Linked DNA regions of Homo sapiens: region 2 is linked to region 1. Evidence: fine-mapped expression QTL. A gene starts in region 1. The other region holds a variant in brackets. All regions are shown on one strand. Distances are between the middles of the regions.

The links.
Region 2: its variant is fine-mapped to the expression of RNF187 in NK cells (Schmiedel 2018, PIP 0.95).

What each region holds. Positions count from the first base shown.
Region 1 is chr1:228,483,985-228,492,313 of GRCh38, forward strand. It overlaps RNF187 (ring finger protein 187), which reads left to right and starts at 3,398. Exons shown (of 4, transcript NM_001010858.3): 1 at 3,398-3,894; 2 at 4,976-5,068. The coding sequence starts at 3,505. RefSeq lists enhancers at 2,276-3,137, 2,457-2,836, 3,138-3,998, 4,116-4,844, 4,845-5,572 and 1 more and silencers at 3,457-3,576, 3,837-4,036.
Region 2 is chr1:228,509,488-228,517,816 of GRCh38, forward strand. It overlaps LOC105373124 (a long non-coding RNA gene), which reads left to right. Exons shown (of 3, transcript XR_949233.3): 3 at 404-645. It also overlaps the pseudogene BTNL10P. Among named protein-coding and RNA genes, the nearest start is that of RNF187, 26 kb to the left of the region's middle. RefSeq lists an enhancer at 1,651-2,152. The variant A/G (reference allele first, on the strand shown) is at 5,086.

The DNA of each region.
Region 1 (8,329 bases):
CCTTCCTTCTTTTTCTCCTTCCTTCCTTCCTTTTCTTTCTTTCCTTCCTTTCTTCTTTTTCTTTTCCCTTTCTTCCTTCCTTCCTCTCTCCCTCCACTCCTTCCTTCTCTCCCCCACCCCCCGCCCCCACCTCTCTCTCTCTCTCTCTCTCTCTTTCTTTTTTTTAAGACAAGGTCTTAAAAAATTCTCTCATTTCCCAGGCTGGAGTGCAGTGGCATGATCACGGCTCACTACAGGCTCAATCTCCTGTGCTCGGGTGATCCTCCCACCTCAGCCTCCCAAGTAGTTGGGTCCACAGGTGCGTGCCACCACGCCCAGCTAAATTTTAAAAATTTTCTGTACAGACAGGTTCTTGCCATGTTCCCCAGGCTGGTGTTGAACTACTGGGCTCAAGCTATCCACTCACCTCAGCCTCCCAAAGTGCTGGGATTAACAGGCATGAGCCACCTCTCCCAGCCACATTTCTAAACAAAACAAAACAGCCCAATTTTTTACAACCCAATTTTTATTATTTTCATTTCCTGTTATTTTTATAGTTTGTTTTCTAAGAAAAGGAATTCCAATCAGAAAATCCTTAATCGATACTGCTACGTGGATTACAAGAAGCAGTATTCACAGAATCAAGTGTTTTTTTTGTTTGTTTGTTTTCTGTTTTTTGTTTTTTTGAAATGGAGTTTCACTCTGTTGCCCAGGCTGGAGTGCAGTGGTGTGATCTCGGCTCACTGCAACCTCCACCGCCCAGGTTCAAGCGATTCTCCTGCCTCAGCCACCCAAATAGCTGGGATTACAGGCACGTGCCACCATGCCTGGCTAATTTTTGTATTTTTTTTTTTTTTTTGAAACTGAGGGAGTCTTGCTCTGTCGCCAGGTTGGAGTGTAGTGGCATGATCTCGGCTCACTGCAACCTTCGTCTCCCGGTTCCAGCTATTCTCCTGCCTCAGCCTCTCAAGTAGCTGGGACCACAGGCGTGCACCACCATGCCCAACTAATTTTTGTATTTTTAGTAGAGACGGGGTTTCACCATGTTGGCCAGGATGGTCTCGATCTCTTGATCTTGTGATCCACCTGCCTCAGCCTCCCAAAGTGCTGGGATTACAGGCGTGTGCCACCACATCCAGCCTAATTTTTGTATTTTTAGTAGAGATAGGGTTTCACTATGTTGGCCAGGCTGGTCTTGAACTCCTGACCTCAGATGATTCACCCGCCTCGGCCTCCCAAAGTGCTGTGTTTACAGGCCTGAGCCACGGCTCCCGGCCAAGTTTCCTTTTTTTTGTTTGGTCTGCTTACTTAATAGTGGAAAGAAAGAGAGTCTCGTTTTATTTTCCTCTTTCTTAACTGGGCAGAGTGTACATTTTTTTCTCATGTGTGTTCAATCATTTGTGTGCTTTTTTTTTTGTGATTTGAAAAATCCCATGACAAGGTGTATTTTCCATCATGCTTTTCCTTACCTAATTTTATAAACTCTTTGTATATTTGTGGTTACAATGTTCCTAATTTGGCTATTTGCCTTTAATTATAATTTTTGATATTTTCTCATTCACAAGATTAGTTCATTATGAAGTTTGCTCATTTTTTATATTTTTTACTTTTCTCTCCAGCAAGTTCCTAGTTGACTCAACAATATCAGCAAGGCTCGGCTGGAAGCCTCTAATCTTTACTACACAGAAATAACCTCGGTTTACTATTCATGTTTCCCACGGGCATCTAGTGCATTTCCAAGTCGATTTAAAAAATCTTCACAAAGACAAAAATACCTCATTAGATCCTGCGCTTGCTTGGAATACAGATTTATAAAAATTTTTTTTTGTTTTTGTTTTTTAAGACAGAGTCTCGCTCTGTCGCCAGGCTAGAGTGCAGTGGCACGATCTTGGCTCACCGCAACCTCCGACTCCCTGGTTCAAGTGATTCTCCTGCCTCAGCCTCCTGAGTAGCTGGGATTACAGGCATGCGCCACCACGCCCGGCTAATTTGTGTATTTTTAGTAGAGACGGGGTTTCACCATGAGCCAGGATGGTCTCATATCTTGACCTTGTGATCCGCTCGCCTCGGCCTCGCAAAGTGCTGGGATTAGAGACGTGAGCCACGGCGCCCGGCCCAGATTAATTTTTTAAAATGCAAAACTTGCACAATCTTATTTTAACCATGCTTGCTTGTTTTCAAAATAATTAAAAAACAAAAACACAAGATTGCTCTTCCCAAAGGCTTATTTCTTTCCTTTAAATTTATTTTTTAAAGAAAAGCTAACGGCCGGGTGTAGTGGCTCACGCCTGTAATCCCAGCACTTTGGGAGGCAGAGGCGGGTGGATTACGAGGTCAGGAGTTCGAGGCCAGCCTGGCCAACATGGTGAAACCCCGTCTGTACTAAAAATACAAAAATTAGCCGGGCGTCGTGGCAGGCGCCTGCAATACCGGCTACTCGGGGGGCTGAGGCAGGAGAATCGCTTGAACCCGGGACGCGGAGGTTGCAGTGAGCCGAGATCGCGCCACTGCACTCAAGCCTGCCTGGCAACAGAGCGAGGCTGTCTCAAAAAAGAAAGAAAAGCAAAGCAAAGCTAACAAATGCTCTTCTGTCATGCATCATCACAGAATCAATGAGAGCTCCCCCCAGCCAGGAGACAGCGGACAACCAGGGTAGCTTCCCAGGGGGCCAGAGGGAGGCTGCGCGAGAAGAGGCTCAGCGGGATGGGTCCACGCAGGGAGATCCCACGCAGGGTGGGCGTATACGAGTGTCCACGTCCGGAGGGCCGTTCAAGGGCGGGTCCCTGAAGGAAGGGTGCACGCAGGGCACGTCCACGCGGGCAGGCCCGTGCACGCAGGGCGTGCCCATGCAGGGCGGGTCCGTGCAGGATGAGAGCAGCGGAGGAGGCCCACGCAGGCCATTTCCCGCCCCGTCCCCAGCCCACGCGGGCGAGCTACCGCGGGGGTACGCGCAGCTCAGATCCTAGCAGCTTACAAAAACAACCTTTTAAAAATGGAACCTTCAAGTAAAAATAAAACTTTGTTTCCCTCTTTCGCAGGAGTTACTGAAGTAGGAAGGGACAGCCCAGTAAGATTTCAGGATACGACTTGGGCCGGTCCGCAGGCAGTAGAGTGAAGCGCGCAGCTGCCAGGACTTGCGCGGTGACGTGCGCCGCTGCCAGGACCTTGCAGGTGGAGAGCATAGTTGCCAAAATCAAGGCGGAGGAGCGCACCGCCGCTAGGATCCAGGCGGAGAAGCCCACCGCGGCCAGGACCTAAGGATGCAGTACACTGCTGCCAGGATCTTGTCTGTGGAGCGCAGCGCGGCCAGGACCTCCGGCTGCAGCACACCGCTGCCAGGATCTTATCGGCAGAGCGCTCCGCGGTCCGGACCCCGCCCCGTGCGCGTCCCCGACCCCGCCCCGTGCGCGTCCCCGGCGTTGGCGTCTTCGTCCTGTTGCTGGTCTCCGTCCGGTCGCCGGCCGTCTAGGTCTCCGGCCCTCCCCAGCCGCTCCTGCGCCCTTGCCGGCCCCGCCGCCCGCAGCCCTGGCGCTCCCTGCGGGCCCCGCCGAGGCCGCCTGCGCCCTGTGCCAGCGCGCGCCCCGGGAACCGGTGCGCGCCGACTGCGGCCACCGCTTCTGTCGGGCGTGCGTGGTGCGCTTCTGGGCCGAGGAGGACGGGCCCTTCCCGTGCCCCGAGTGCGCCGACGACTGCTGGCAGCGCGCCGTGGAGCCCGGCAGGCCCCCGCTCAGCCGCCGCCTTCTGGCGCTCGAGGAGGCGGCCGCGGCGCCCGCGCGCGACGGCCCGGCCAGCGAGGCCGCGCTGCAGCTGCTGTGCCGCGCCGACGCCGGCCCGCTCTGCGCCGCCTGCCGTATGGCTGCGGGCCCCGAGCCGCCCGAGTGGGAACCGCGCTGGAGGAAGGCGCTGCGCGGCAAGGTGCGCGCCGCGGGGTCCCGTGCCCCACCCCGGACGGTGCCCTGCGCCTCTCCGCCCCCGCCCCGGTCCCCCTGAGCCCTGGGCCCTTCCCGTCTCCACTGTTCCTGTCCCCGGATTGTCCCCGTCCCCGGATTGTCCCCCTCCCCTCACCGCCACGGGTCCCCTCTCCAGCGTGTGCTGGGCCCCTCCCTCCTGCGGCTTGCCTCCCCATATTTCCTGCGTCTCTTCGGAGTCTGGTCCCCTTCCCCGTCTTGGTGTCCCCTGCTGGGCGGTGCCTTATCTCCCCACCCCCTACCTTCTACGAAGTCCTTCCCCCACCAGCGCCCATCTTTGTGGTCCCATCACTAGCTGTGCCCTGTCTCGCCCTCATAGACCCCCTCTAGTTCCTACAGATTGACTCCTCCACTCACTCTTCCCTTGGGGGAGACATCACGCCTCTTGCCCCTCTGTATTCCACTGTGTCCACAGGCCTGGCCCACCTTCTCGTCTGCTCCCCGGGCCACCCAGCCCTCGCCTGCACCCCCTGTCCCCTCTCCCATCTTTCAGAAACCCGCTCTGAGAGTCTGGCAGCAGCGGGTCCGGGAGTCTGGAGCCTTGCCCATGGCGGGTTGGTTGTGGGACACAGAATAGGAGACAACAGCCAGCCTGGGGTCCTGCTCTTCAATACAGGGGAGGGGAAGCCAGCCAGACTGTGTCCCTGGGTGCTCCTCCTGCATTGGGGGTCCTGCCACCGGGCAGAGCGACCCCCATCCGGCTCAGGCAGGGCAGGGTGTAGGGCAGGCTGTGCAGACCTTTGGTACAGGCCGAACTCACACTGAACAGGGCCACTTACAGACACAGAACTCCTAAACCCACCTAGACAGTCCCCTTAGCCCCAGCACCCAGATCCTTCTGAATAGGTGTGAAGCCCAAGAAACCTTTTGACTGCCTGTGCGTTCCTGCCCTAGACAACCGGGCTTCGAGGTTATCTCTGGGATGGTCAGACTGTGTGCAGTCAGCTGGGGTGATGTCCCTCAGTACTGGGCTGGGTTGGGGGACCCAGAGCTTCTGCCCACCCCTGGTGACCTTCTTTTCTTTACAGGAGAACAAGGGGTCTGTGGAAATCATGAGAAAGGACTTGAATGACGCCCGGGACCTGCATGGCCAGGCAGAGTCAGCAGCTGCAGTGTGGAAGGCAAGTGGGGGGACCTGGGGCAGCCTGGAATGAGGGGACTGTGGGCTCAGGGCTCTAGACAAAGGGACCACCAGGCCAAGTGGGCCAGGCCTCTGAACTGCTCAGCTGGTTGGTTGGAGGAGGGGCCTCTGGACTTAAGTGAGCTTCAGGGTATTTTTTTTAGGATGTGTTTGTATTTCTCAAATAGAATCTAGCCAAAGCCAGTGGAAGCCTCTTTTTCTCCTCACATTTTACCTGTAGGTGATGGCAGCATCAGACTTCTTTTTTTTTTCCCAAGAGACAGAGTCTCACTTCATTACCCAGGCTGAAGTGCAATGGCATGATTGTAGCTCACTGCAGCTCGAACTGGCCTCAGGCGATCCTCCCACCTCAGCCTCTGGGACTATAGGCACGTGCTACCACACCTGGTTAATTTTAAAATGCTTTTCTAGAGGTGGGGGTCTTGCTGTGTTGCCCAGGCTGGTCTCAAACTCCTGACCTTAAGCGGTTCTCCCGCCTTGGCCTCCCAAAGTGCTATTTTTTTTTTCTTTTTTAGAACACATCTGTAATTTTCTGTGGTCCTCTTGTTCTGATCTGAGAGTTGCTCATTATTTTTTAGAGGCTAGAAGTCCAAGATGAAGGAACTGGCAGATTCCCTGTCTGGTGAGGGCGTTTCCTGGTTCATAGATGGTGTCTTCTCACTGTGTCCTCACATGGTGGAAGAAGTGAGGGTGTCTCTGGGGCCTTTGTGTAAGGACACTGATTCCGTTCTTGAGAGTTCCACCCTCACAACCTCATCACCTCCCAAGGGTCCTGCCTCCTAACGCCATCACCTGAGGGATGAGGATTTCAGCATGGGGATTTGGGGAGGACACAGACATTCAGACCAGAGCAGCGTTACTTTCCTTGGGTGCCTTCCACAGTATTATATCCCAAGGGGACATCCCATAGATTCTTTTAGGTTACTCACCAGTAAAGCTCTTTAGTCGTTTAAACTCTATTTGGTGACTTTTTCCTCGTGTAGTAAAAACCTGTGTGCCATTTTCTCTGCGTTTCATAAATTCCTATCTCCTTCTTTTAACCTGAAAGACAGAGTGCTTTTCACAGGTGCAGCAGCTCTTGGGTAACTGGCTGCATCTCGAGGCTGAGGCCCACGTTTTTACCCCAGCTTGAGGCTGAGGTGGGCTCTGTGCTCCTGGTGCTGCCAAGCCCTTGCCTGCTATCCACAGGCCTGAGGTGCAGGCCTCCCTCAGACAGTGACGGGTTACACATGGGGTCCCTGATGCCACTCAGACCCCTGGCACTCCACACTGCCCTTGGGGCTGCTCTGAACTTCTCCTTGCCTTGTGAGTGGTCAACACTGCCCAGTGCAAGTGAGGCTGGAAGGCTTTGGGGACCTCCAAGTTTTCAGTAACCCTGTGTTACCCCAAGGGAATTGTTTTGCCCACAGATTTTAGCAGGTTGGAGCTTTCAATCTGTCCTGTTTTGGGGGTTTGTGGCTTAGATGCTGGGATGAGAGAAGCCACCTAAATCCAAAGGAAGGAGTTTGCAGCGTGTTGCATCAGCCAGCCAGCAGACACCCAGCTGTCATTTGCATTCTCAGCAACAAAAGCCTTGGCCCCTCATGACTATGGGTGTCACCTGCCCTGTGTGGCCCAGGGCCAGGTGGAAGCCATCCATGACTGAGTAAAATCAGAGTAGCATCCTGCTCTGCTCTCCTGTTTGCAAGGTTAGGAGTTGGCTGAAAACCAGCTGAAGAGTGGCAAGTGTGAATGCTGTTTGTTGAAGGCTGATGGGATGGTTTTCAGCCATTGGAGTTCTGGTGTGGGCACAGCAGGGACAGTTGCTGGCAAGATGGGTGTGTGTCCTGCCCTGACAGTCACGTGCCTGACAGGCTCTAGACCTAGCAGGGCCACTCAAGGATTTACTGTCCCCTTGGCCATGGGAGATGGGAGAGGGACAGTCTTCCTGTGCAGCTGAGCACTGCAGTGTAGGGGAGAAAGAACTCTATTTCTCCCCTTTTAGGGCCCCAGGCTGGGCGGGAGAATTAAACTGACATAAGCTAAACTAACAGGGTCAGGTGCAGTGGTTCATGCCTGTAATCCCAGCAACTTGGGAGGCTGAGGTGTAGGAGGATTGCTTGAGGCTAGGAGTTCGAGACCAGCCTGGGTAACATAGTGAGACCACCATCTGTACAAAAATTAATAAATTAGCCAGGTATGGTGTTGCATCTGTGGTCCCAGCTACTTGGGAGGCTGAGGTGGGAGGATCACTTAAGCCCAAGAGGTTGAGGCTGCAGTGAACTGTGATGGCACCACTGCACTCCAACATGGGTGACAGAGTGAGGCCCTATCTCAAAAAAAAAAAAAAAAAAAAAATAAAGGGAGATGGGTTAATGGGAGAAAAAACATAGGATTTTTTTTTTTTGAGATGGAGTCTTGCTCTGTTGCCCAGGCTGGAGTGCAGTGGTGCGATCTTGCCTCACTGCATCCTCCACCTCCTTGGTTCAAGTGGTTCTCCTGCCTCAGCCTCCCGAGTAACTGCGACTACAGGTGTGCACCACCACGCCTGGCTAATCTTGTATTTTTAGTGGAGATGGGGTTTCACCATGTTGGCCAGGCTGGTCTTGAACTCCTGACCTCAAGTGATCCAACCACCTCGGCCTCCCAAAGTGCTGGGATTACAGGTGTGAGCCACCGTGTCCAGCCAGGCATATTAATTTAACACAAGTTTTATACAGCACAGGCTCCCTTATAATGAAATGAAGACTCAAAGTGGCAAAATTAAATCACTTATATACTGACTTGGACAAAGACTAGCCACTTGTAAAAAAGCAACTACATGATGTGGGGATGCTTGAAAGAGTTGTTTTCACAAGGTCTGTACCAAATTCTGTCGGCCTTGACTTCCTGTCGTCCTTGATGATAAAATCATTTTATTTGATATGGGGAGGGCGTCTTTCACTTGGGAATTTCATTTGCTTTTAAGAAGCAGAATGGAGGTCAGGGTGATCTTGCACTGTTTTTTGATTTTTTTTAAAAAAGGCCTTGCTCTGTTGGCCCAGGCTGGAGTGCAGTGGTATGGTCATAGCTCACTGCAGCCTCAAACTCCTGGGCTCAAGCGATCGTCTTACCTCAGCCTCCCGAGTTGCTGGGACCATAGGTGTGCACCACTATGCCTGGCTAATGTTTTTGATTTTTAGTAGAGACAGGTTTTCACTGTTGCCCAGGCTAGTCTCGAACTCCTGGGCTCAAGCAATCCTCCCACCTCAGCCTCCCAAAG
Region 2 (8,329 bases), 26 kb after region 1:
ACATCATTTAGAAAAGTAAAAGTGAAAGTTTTTGTGAAAAGCTAAATTTGGAAACAACCAAGATATTTTTTAGTAGGTGAATGGATCAATAAACAGTGGTCCATCCAGATCCTGGAACGTTATTCATTTCACAAAAGAAACAAGTTATCAAGGCAGGAAAAGACATGGAGGAAACCTAAATGCGTACCACAAAGTGAGGGAAGTCAAAGTGAAGGGGCTACAGAGGCACCGTCCCAACTACAGGACATTCCAGAACACCTGGAAACTATGGAGACAGTGAAAACATCAGTGGTGGCCAGGAGTTAGGGGAGATGAATGAATGAGCGGAGCACGGAGGATTAAGGGCAGTGACATTATTTTGTATGATACTATGACAGATATGTGGCATTATATATTTATCTAGAACCATGGGACACCATGCCAAGAGTGAGCCCTCATGAAAACTGCACTCTGGGTGCTGACGGCATTGTCAACGGAAGTTCATCAAACATGGTGGACGTTCCTTCTGGTGTAGGGTTTTTATGCTGGGGGAAGGTGTGTGAGGGGGTTAGGGGAAGATGGGAACTCTCTGGACTTTCTACTAAAATTTGTTGTGACCCTAAAACTGCTTTAAAAAATAAAGCCTATTTTAAAAAACCCTAAAAACTGTTGATATTAGGATGTACATTTCTTGTTCCCCCAAAGGCAAGGCTCTCCCCAGGGTCCCTGCACCCTTATCTCTGTTCCTCTTCAGTAATCAGCACCCAAACAGTGCACCTCCTGGGATGCCCCAGCCATGTGAGGACAGGGACCTGCCACCCATCCCTGCTTGCCACAAACCCCACAGCTGTCTCTTAATGTCCCCAGTGTCCAGGGCCACGGAATCCTGTGCTCAGTGATTGTGAGGACAGAACTGAATAGAGGACTCACCGGGCAGGTGGCTCTCAGCCACCTTCCTCCTTTCAGGGAGGAGGGGGCTGGAGATGGAGCAGGAGAGACCCTCCACAGCCCTGTCCCAGAGCGTCAAGCTGGATGCCACAGCCCAGAGCCTGGTGGTGGCTGAGGCTGATAGATTGGTCACAGCAGGCCTAGCCTGGCCCCTGAAGTCTCTCCGTTCCACCCAGGACTTGGGGAAACAGCCTGCTGATGTGCACTCCGCCCTGACTCCATCCTGCTGGTCTGTCACCTGGATTCTGGGCTCTCTGCCCAGCCCTGAAGGAAGAGACAGCAGCTTGAATCTTTGCAGCCATGGCTGCTTCTATTTAAAGGAAAAACAAAATCTTGAGGATTTCCAATGTATTTTGGCAATTTCACAAACTGCCTACCCTGTGTTACACACCATCCCTAACAGAGTTCCCCATTTCCCAGACAAAAGAAGGGAAGCAAAGTGGAAAAGGTCCAGGAAGATTGAATAGGCATCCTGTGTTGCAGAAGTAGAATTCATGGCACAAGATGGGACCCAGGCTTGTCTGTTTCGAAGCACAAGTTCTGAGTCACTCGGGAAACCTCCCGTATCTGAAGACTCTCTTCTCTCTCTTGGCCTTTCTGTCTCCTGTCATTATTTCTCTGTCTCTCTCTTCCTCCCACTCTCTGTTGCTTACTGTCTTTCTCATTTTCTTTTACTGTCTCTCTGTCTCTGTCTCTATCTCCCTCTCTCTGTCACTGACTCTGTCTCTTTGTCTCTTTCATTCTCTCTGTGTTTCTCTCAGTTTCTCATTCTCTCTGTCTCTCTCCATCTCTGTCTCTCCTGTCTTTCATTCTCTGTCTCTGCCTGTCCCTCCCTCTCCATCTCTCTCTTTCCCCATCTCTATAATTCTGTCATTCTTTCTTCATCTCTCTCTGTCTTTCTCTCATCTCTCTGTCTTTCTCTCCATCTCTCTTTCCACCTCTGTCTGTCTCTCCCTGCTTCTTTCTCATTCTATCTCTTCTTCTCTGTGTCTCTCTCATTCCCCCCATCTCTCTCTTTCCCTTCCCTTCACTTTCCAGTCCACTGGTGTAAGGAGGGAAAGGAAGATGAGGAAGGTGGCTCTGCCTTCACCGCTGTGCTTCCCGGGAGCAGTGCAGGCCAGCACGGCAGCTGGGAGAGTGCACTCTCACCCTACTGAAAAGCCCTCCACCTGAACACGCTGGGCCCCAAGGCCATGCCTGGAAGTAGACTGACAGCCAGCTAGCCACCAGCCTTACCTGCCACCTGCACCTGCACAGTGGCCTCGCCGAACTTTACACCATCCTTGAAGCGGCAGCAGTATGTCCTGTTGTCAAAGGTGGTGACCCTGTGACTCCTCACCATGGCCTTGCCCCTGGCCACGTGGTCACTCATGAAGGTGGTCCTTCCTCTGTACTGCCACTTTTGCTCTCCATCCATGTCCATCCCTCTCTCATGCATGTGCACAGCTAGGGAGGGCTGGCACCTGTACCACCTCAGCTCCATGTCCTCGGCACTGATATTGGGGAACAGCTGGCACTGTAACTCCACGTGTCCCCCAGCCATAGCCAGAATAGGGGCATGAGGCCCAGTGACATCAAAGTCAGCTTTCCCTGGGGGAGGCAGATCAGAAAGGGCTGGGTTAGGCCATGTGTTGGGAGGCCAGGGCACTTCCCCCCTGCCCCTCCCTCTTCTTGGAAGCTTTGGGGACCTATTGAGCCCTGAGCTGCTGGGAGATGCTTCAGCTTCCCGCCATGCTGGACACACCCCCACCTATGCCAGGGCACCTGCCTCGACTTGCACAGGAGTCTGTCCCTCAGTTTTGACAGATGCTGGCCAGTGGGAGCTGCAGGAAGACCAAGGTGACAAAGCAGATGGACAGGAAGGCCTCTGGATCGCATGTCACTGCCATTCCTGCCAGGCCGGAGCCACGCACTGTCACTGGGAGAGGAGCCACCGCCAGGAAGCTAACAGGTGCAGAGGAAAAGTGCCATGGAAGAAAAAGAAGAAAAAGGTCATTTACTCTCACTCTCAAACAAGTTATTAATGCTATAAATGGAGACACAGCAAGCCTCATGTGCTCCTGTACCCATCTCCTTGCGGGTAACACACCTCTCACCCTAGTCTGTCTGCGGAATTCCACGAGGACATCCAGGAGGGAAGGGGTTTGATTTTCTAATTGCTCATAAAGAGCTGTAGCCCAGTCTCTAGCTGGTGACTGTCATGAAACTCCAGAATGCTGGGGGAGAAAACCCAGACTCGGATTAAGCAAATTCGAGGTCAGAACGACATCAAGGGATTCCCTTAATGTCCCTTGCTTTCCTGCTGTCCCCATGGGGACTTCTACAGTCAGGGGCTGGGGGCTGGGCCCAATCCTCAGAGCTCTTCAGCTGGGATGGGCAGGCCAAGACCCTCATGAGTCTCTTGTGAGCATTTCTTGTAACCTTGGTTTAGAGAGCAGGTGTTGGTAAAAAGTTCTGTGACCTTGGGCGGTTCTACCCAGCACAGCCATCCAGGTTGGGCATTTACGTGTGTGATTAGGGAGTTGTGTGGGCACAGGCTCTTGTCCTGTTTGGTTCTTGCATTGCAGGAAGGCCCTGTGGTCCTTCTGCCCTTGGGGATGGGGAGAGGGTGGAGGAAGCAGAGACACTGAAGAGCAAACCACATCCTGACCATAGACAATGCTCACCTGGCACCGAGAGCTGCTGCAGCTTCCCTGGGAAGTCCTGGCAACTTTGGGGGAATGAATTTAGTTTCCTGCCAACTCCAGGTAGGGTGTGACCCAGACCAACCACGCTGTCTCCAAGCAGTGATGTGAAAGGCAACCTAGACATCTGGCAAAAGCCGCCAAGTCCCCCAGTTTCCAGAGATTCTTCCTTTTGTTTTTTGCAAAAATATGTAACTGTACCTTTCTGGCAGTTGCAGCAGAAAAAAAAAAAAAGGCTTCCTGAAGAGTGTGATCCCCAGTGTGGAACACCCCAGGGCTGGGGAGCAGGAGATAGAGCCCGCCGGGAGGAGACGGGTCTCAGGGTGGGACCCAGGCCAGCTGAAGGAGCTGCAAATGCAGATAAAGCCTGTGGTTATCTGGCAGCGTGCAGGCCCAGCCTAGCTGGCCCAGGTCCTTCAGGAAAGGTGTTTATGATCATGTCGCAATGTCCTAATTCCTGTATTGTCCCAGAGGGACGTTCAGGGCTCCTCTTCCCCAGCCCTTCGCTGCCCTCCGTGGCTGTGGGGTCATGGGTGTCTGTTCTCACTGGTAGCATCCCTGGCCCAGCTTAGAACCTTCATGCTGATTTCTCGCACCCAGCCGCAAGGCCTATTCCCTCCTCACCTTCTTGTTTGATGATTCAAAAGTCTGGGCCTTTTCCTGGGTGGTTTTTGTGAGAAAGGAGTCCTTGCTTTCCTAGAGGGAGGAGCTTTATCCAAACTCTGCAGACGGGCTGAGCACTCCCTGTGCCTGCGGGCGGTGAGGAAATCCAAGTGCCAGGTCCCTCCTATGTCCCTCCTTGGGGGAGCGTCTCTTTGGTCAACCGGTTGTTCCCCCTTTTATATGTCAACACGTAAGAATTATGTCGTCCTGTGATCTGCTTTTACCAGACAATGACGTGACCTAAAACTCGACTCACTTGTCCTTTTTAAAAAAATAATTGACCAGACGCGGTGGCTCACACCTGTAATCCCAGTACTTTGGTAGGCTGAGGCAGGCAGATTGCCTGAGGTCAGGAGTTCAAGACCAGTCTGGCCAACGTGGTGGAAACCCATCTGTACTAAAAATACAAAAAAATTAGCCCAGCATGGTGGCCTGTGCCTGTAATCCCAGCTACTTGGGAGGCTGAGGCAGGGGAATTGCTTGAACCAGGGAGGTGGAGGTTGCAGTGAGCCAAGATCGTGCTACTGCACTCCAGCCTGGGTGACAGAGTGAGACTCTGCCTCAAAAAAACATTAATTAATATGTTGTTAAAGACAGGGTCTCACTCTGTCACCCAGGCTGGAGTACAGTGGTGTGATCTCAGCTCACTGCATCCTTGATCTCCCAGACTCAAGCAATCCTCCCATCTCAGCCTCCCAAGTAGCTGGGACCACAGGTGCACCATCATGCCTGGCTAAATTTTTGGTATTTTTTGTAGAGATAAAGTCGTGCTATGTTGCCCAGGCTTGTCTTGAACTCCTGGGCTTAAGCA[A/G]TCCTCCCACTTCGGCTTATCAAAGTACCGTGGTTACTGGCATGAGCCACTGTGCTGCATCCAGTCACACTTGTCCTGATGACTTGGGAAGAAGGACTCAGGTTTGAACAATCTAGAGTGAGCCGCTACGATGTACAGAGCACACTGTGTTGAGAGCAGATTGTGATGCCTGTTGTCGGATGAAGAGTGTCACAAGCACTGGGAGAAGCTATGGCAGAGAAAGGTGTCCTGGCGGTGTGGGCTTTCAGCCCATGGGTAGGTCACCTGACACGGTGGTCCTTCTGTGCATGAGCCCATGTGTGGCCCAGAGTCTCTCATGTGGGCAGTCGGGGCTCCTGCAGACACATTCAGCTCAACCCACCTCAGGTACAATGTTTAAAGTTCAAAGGCAAGAAGAAGACAGGAGGTCACACACTGCACAATTCCATTCATATGAAATGATCAGACAGGTAAATACAGGGACAGAAAGAAAACTGTGGTTGTTGGGGCTGAGGAGATGGGGGAGGTGGAAATGGAGATGAGGAATAACTGTTTAATATTTTGGGGGTTTTATTTAGGGTGATGAAAATATTTTGGAATTAGATAGAGGTGGTGGTTGCAAAACATTGGGAATGTACTTAATGCCACCAAATGGTATGCTTTAAAATGGTCAATTTTATATTATGTAAATTTTATCTCAATTGATAAAAAAGAAAAACATTAAAAAAAGAAAAAGCAGAAAAAAAGAACAAAAACAACAGAGTGAGAGAGAGGAGAGAGAGAGAAAACAAACAAATAACAAAAAAAAGAGCTGCATATCCACCCTCTTGTGGATGGGATTATGGTTAAAAAACAAGAAAACCCCCAAATCTCAACTTTGTTAAAAATGGGATTGTCTGGCCTTTGGTGCCCTCTGCAGGAATGGATGTCAGTGCACCAGTCCCTCTTCCCAGTTTTCTTTTTCTTCTTTTCCTCAACTTTTATTTTAAATTCAGGGGTACATGTGCAGGTTTGTTACATGGATTTATTGCATGACACCACTGAGGTTTGGGATCTGAGTGATCCTATCACTCAGGTAGTGAGCATAGTACCCAATAAGTTAGTTTTTCAACCCTCTCCCTCTCCCTTTCTCTCTGCTCCAGTAGTCCCCAGGGTCTCTTGTTCTCATCCTTATGTCCATGCGTGCCCAACGTTTAGTTCCCACTTATAAGTGAGAACATGTAGCATTTGGTTTTCTGTTCCTGTATTAATTCACTTAGGATAATTGTCTCCAGCTGCATCCATGTTGCTGCAAAGGACATAATGTCACTTTTTTATGGCTGTGTTGTGTATATGTACCACATTTCTGTATGTACATATACACATGGTGTATATGTACCACATTTTCTGTATCCAGTCCCCCAATGACAGGCACCTAGGTTGATTCCATTTCTTTGCTATTGTGAATTGTGCTGCAATAAACATATGAGTGCATGTGTCTTTTTGGTAGAATGATTTCTTTTCCTTTGGTTATGTACCCAATAATGGCATTGCTGGGTCAAATGACAGTTCTACTTTTAGTTCTTTCAGAAACCTCTGAATTGCTTTCCATGGTAGCTTAACTAATACACTCCCACATGGTGTATAAATGTTGCCTTTTTCTGTACAAATTTGCCAACATCTGTTAATTTTTTCACTTTTTAGTAATAGCCATTCTGACTGGTGTGAGATAGTGTCTCATTGTGATTTTGATCTGCATTTCTGATGATTAGTGATGTTGAGCATTTTTTCACGTTTGTTGGCTGCATATATGTCTTCTTTTGAGACGTGTCTGTTCAAGTCCTTTGCCCATTTTTAAATGGAGTTGTTTTTAGCTTGTTGAATTGTTTAGGTTCCTTATAGATTCTGGATCTTAGCCCTTTGCTGATAGTTTGTGAGTATTTCATGAGTATTTGAGTTTGTGAATATTTTCTCCTGTTCTGCAGGTTGTCTGTTTACTCCATTGATGGCTGCTTTTGCTGTGCAGAAGCCCAGTTTCTCCTAAGATCCCCTAGAAGCCAGAGAGATTTTCTGTCGGAAGGAGTCCTCTTGTATTTCCCTCCCCCTCCATCTGTTCTGGGCCTGGGAGCCAGCTTTGCTCTCTGGGCCCTGAGCAGGCCAGTTTGTGTCCTCTTTTCTCAAAGCGCCTCTGAAAACAGCTCAACTGGTGTTTTCCCTGTAGACCCTCTCTCTGTCCTATAAATGGGACCAAACCCATAGGGGCAGTCTTGGAGGACAAATGACACTCTTCCTAATCTCTCCTTCTTCTCCCTATTCCCTGCACAAACTTTCTACTTTCCACAACCCCTGGGACTGTGTGCATAGGGATTCCGGATCCTCTAAGCATTTAAAACGATATTTACCCAAGTCATGGATGATATGTCTCACCTCACTCTTGGATGGTAAATTTGCTCCCTGAGGCTTTGCAATTTCTGTCTACACAGTGTCTAGTCCAGGCCCAAGTGGTACCTTGCAGCAAGCATACCCCGCTTCTGTTTTCCTAAGGCCTCCCACTCTTTAATGCAAACCATGTATTTTTTCTCAATATTATGTAAAGTGCTCTGTAAATGTAGCTGGAAGAGCCCCCTAACAAGCAGATCCGCCAAGCAGCCCCTCCAGCATGGACATTTAAGGATTGCCTTTGTGTCTTAGACTCTGGAGATAGTGTTAGTTGAATGACTACCAGGTGGGTGCAATGAAGACTAAAAGCCACAGGCTGGCCACTCTTGAGGAGACAGGACTCAGAAGGGGCACGCAAGGATGCTGGGGCCTTCAGGATGAGACGGAAGGTTCAGCAGAAGAGAAAGATAAAAGAAAAAGAAAAAGTGAGATGGGATACAGCAAGGGAAGAAGAAGAACTAAATTAAATGAAGTAAATGAAGTAGGGTCATTTTGTACACAGATTTGACGCAGATTATTTATTCATAAAAGTCTGTGTCAGGCATTCAGGTCCTTTGGAATGCATTAGTGAATCAAATGAACAAAAGTTCATTTTGTTGATATCAGGAGTTGATATCCTTCTTTCTCTAATGCCTCCTTCTCCTTTTCTTCTTCTCCACATTCTCATCTTCTTGCTACTCTCCATCCTGCTTCTCCTACCCTCCTCCTCCCACATTTTTCTTACATTATTCTTGTATTTCTCCTTTTTCTCTCTCATTTTCCCTTCCTTTTCCTCCTCCTTTTCTGCTTCTTCTTCATTATCATGATCTGCTTTGTGGTTGTCTTTTTACGCTCTCCCTCTTCTTTA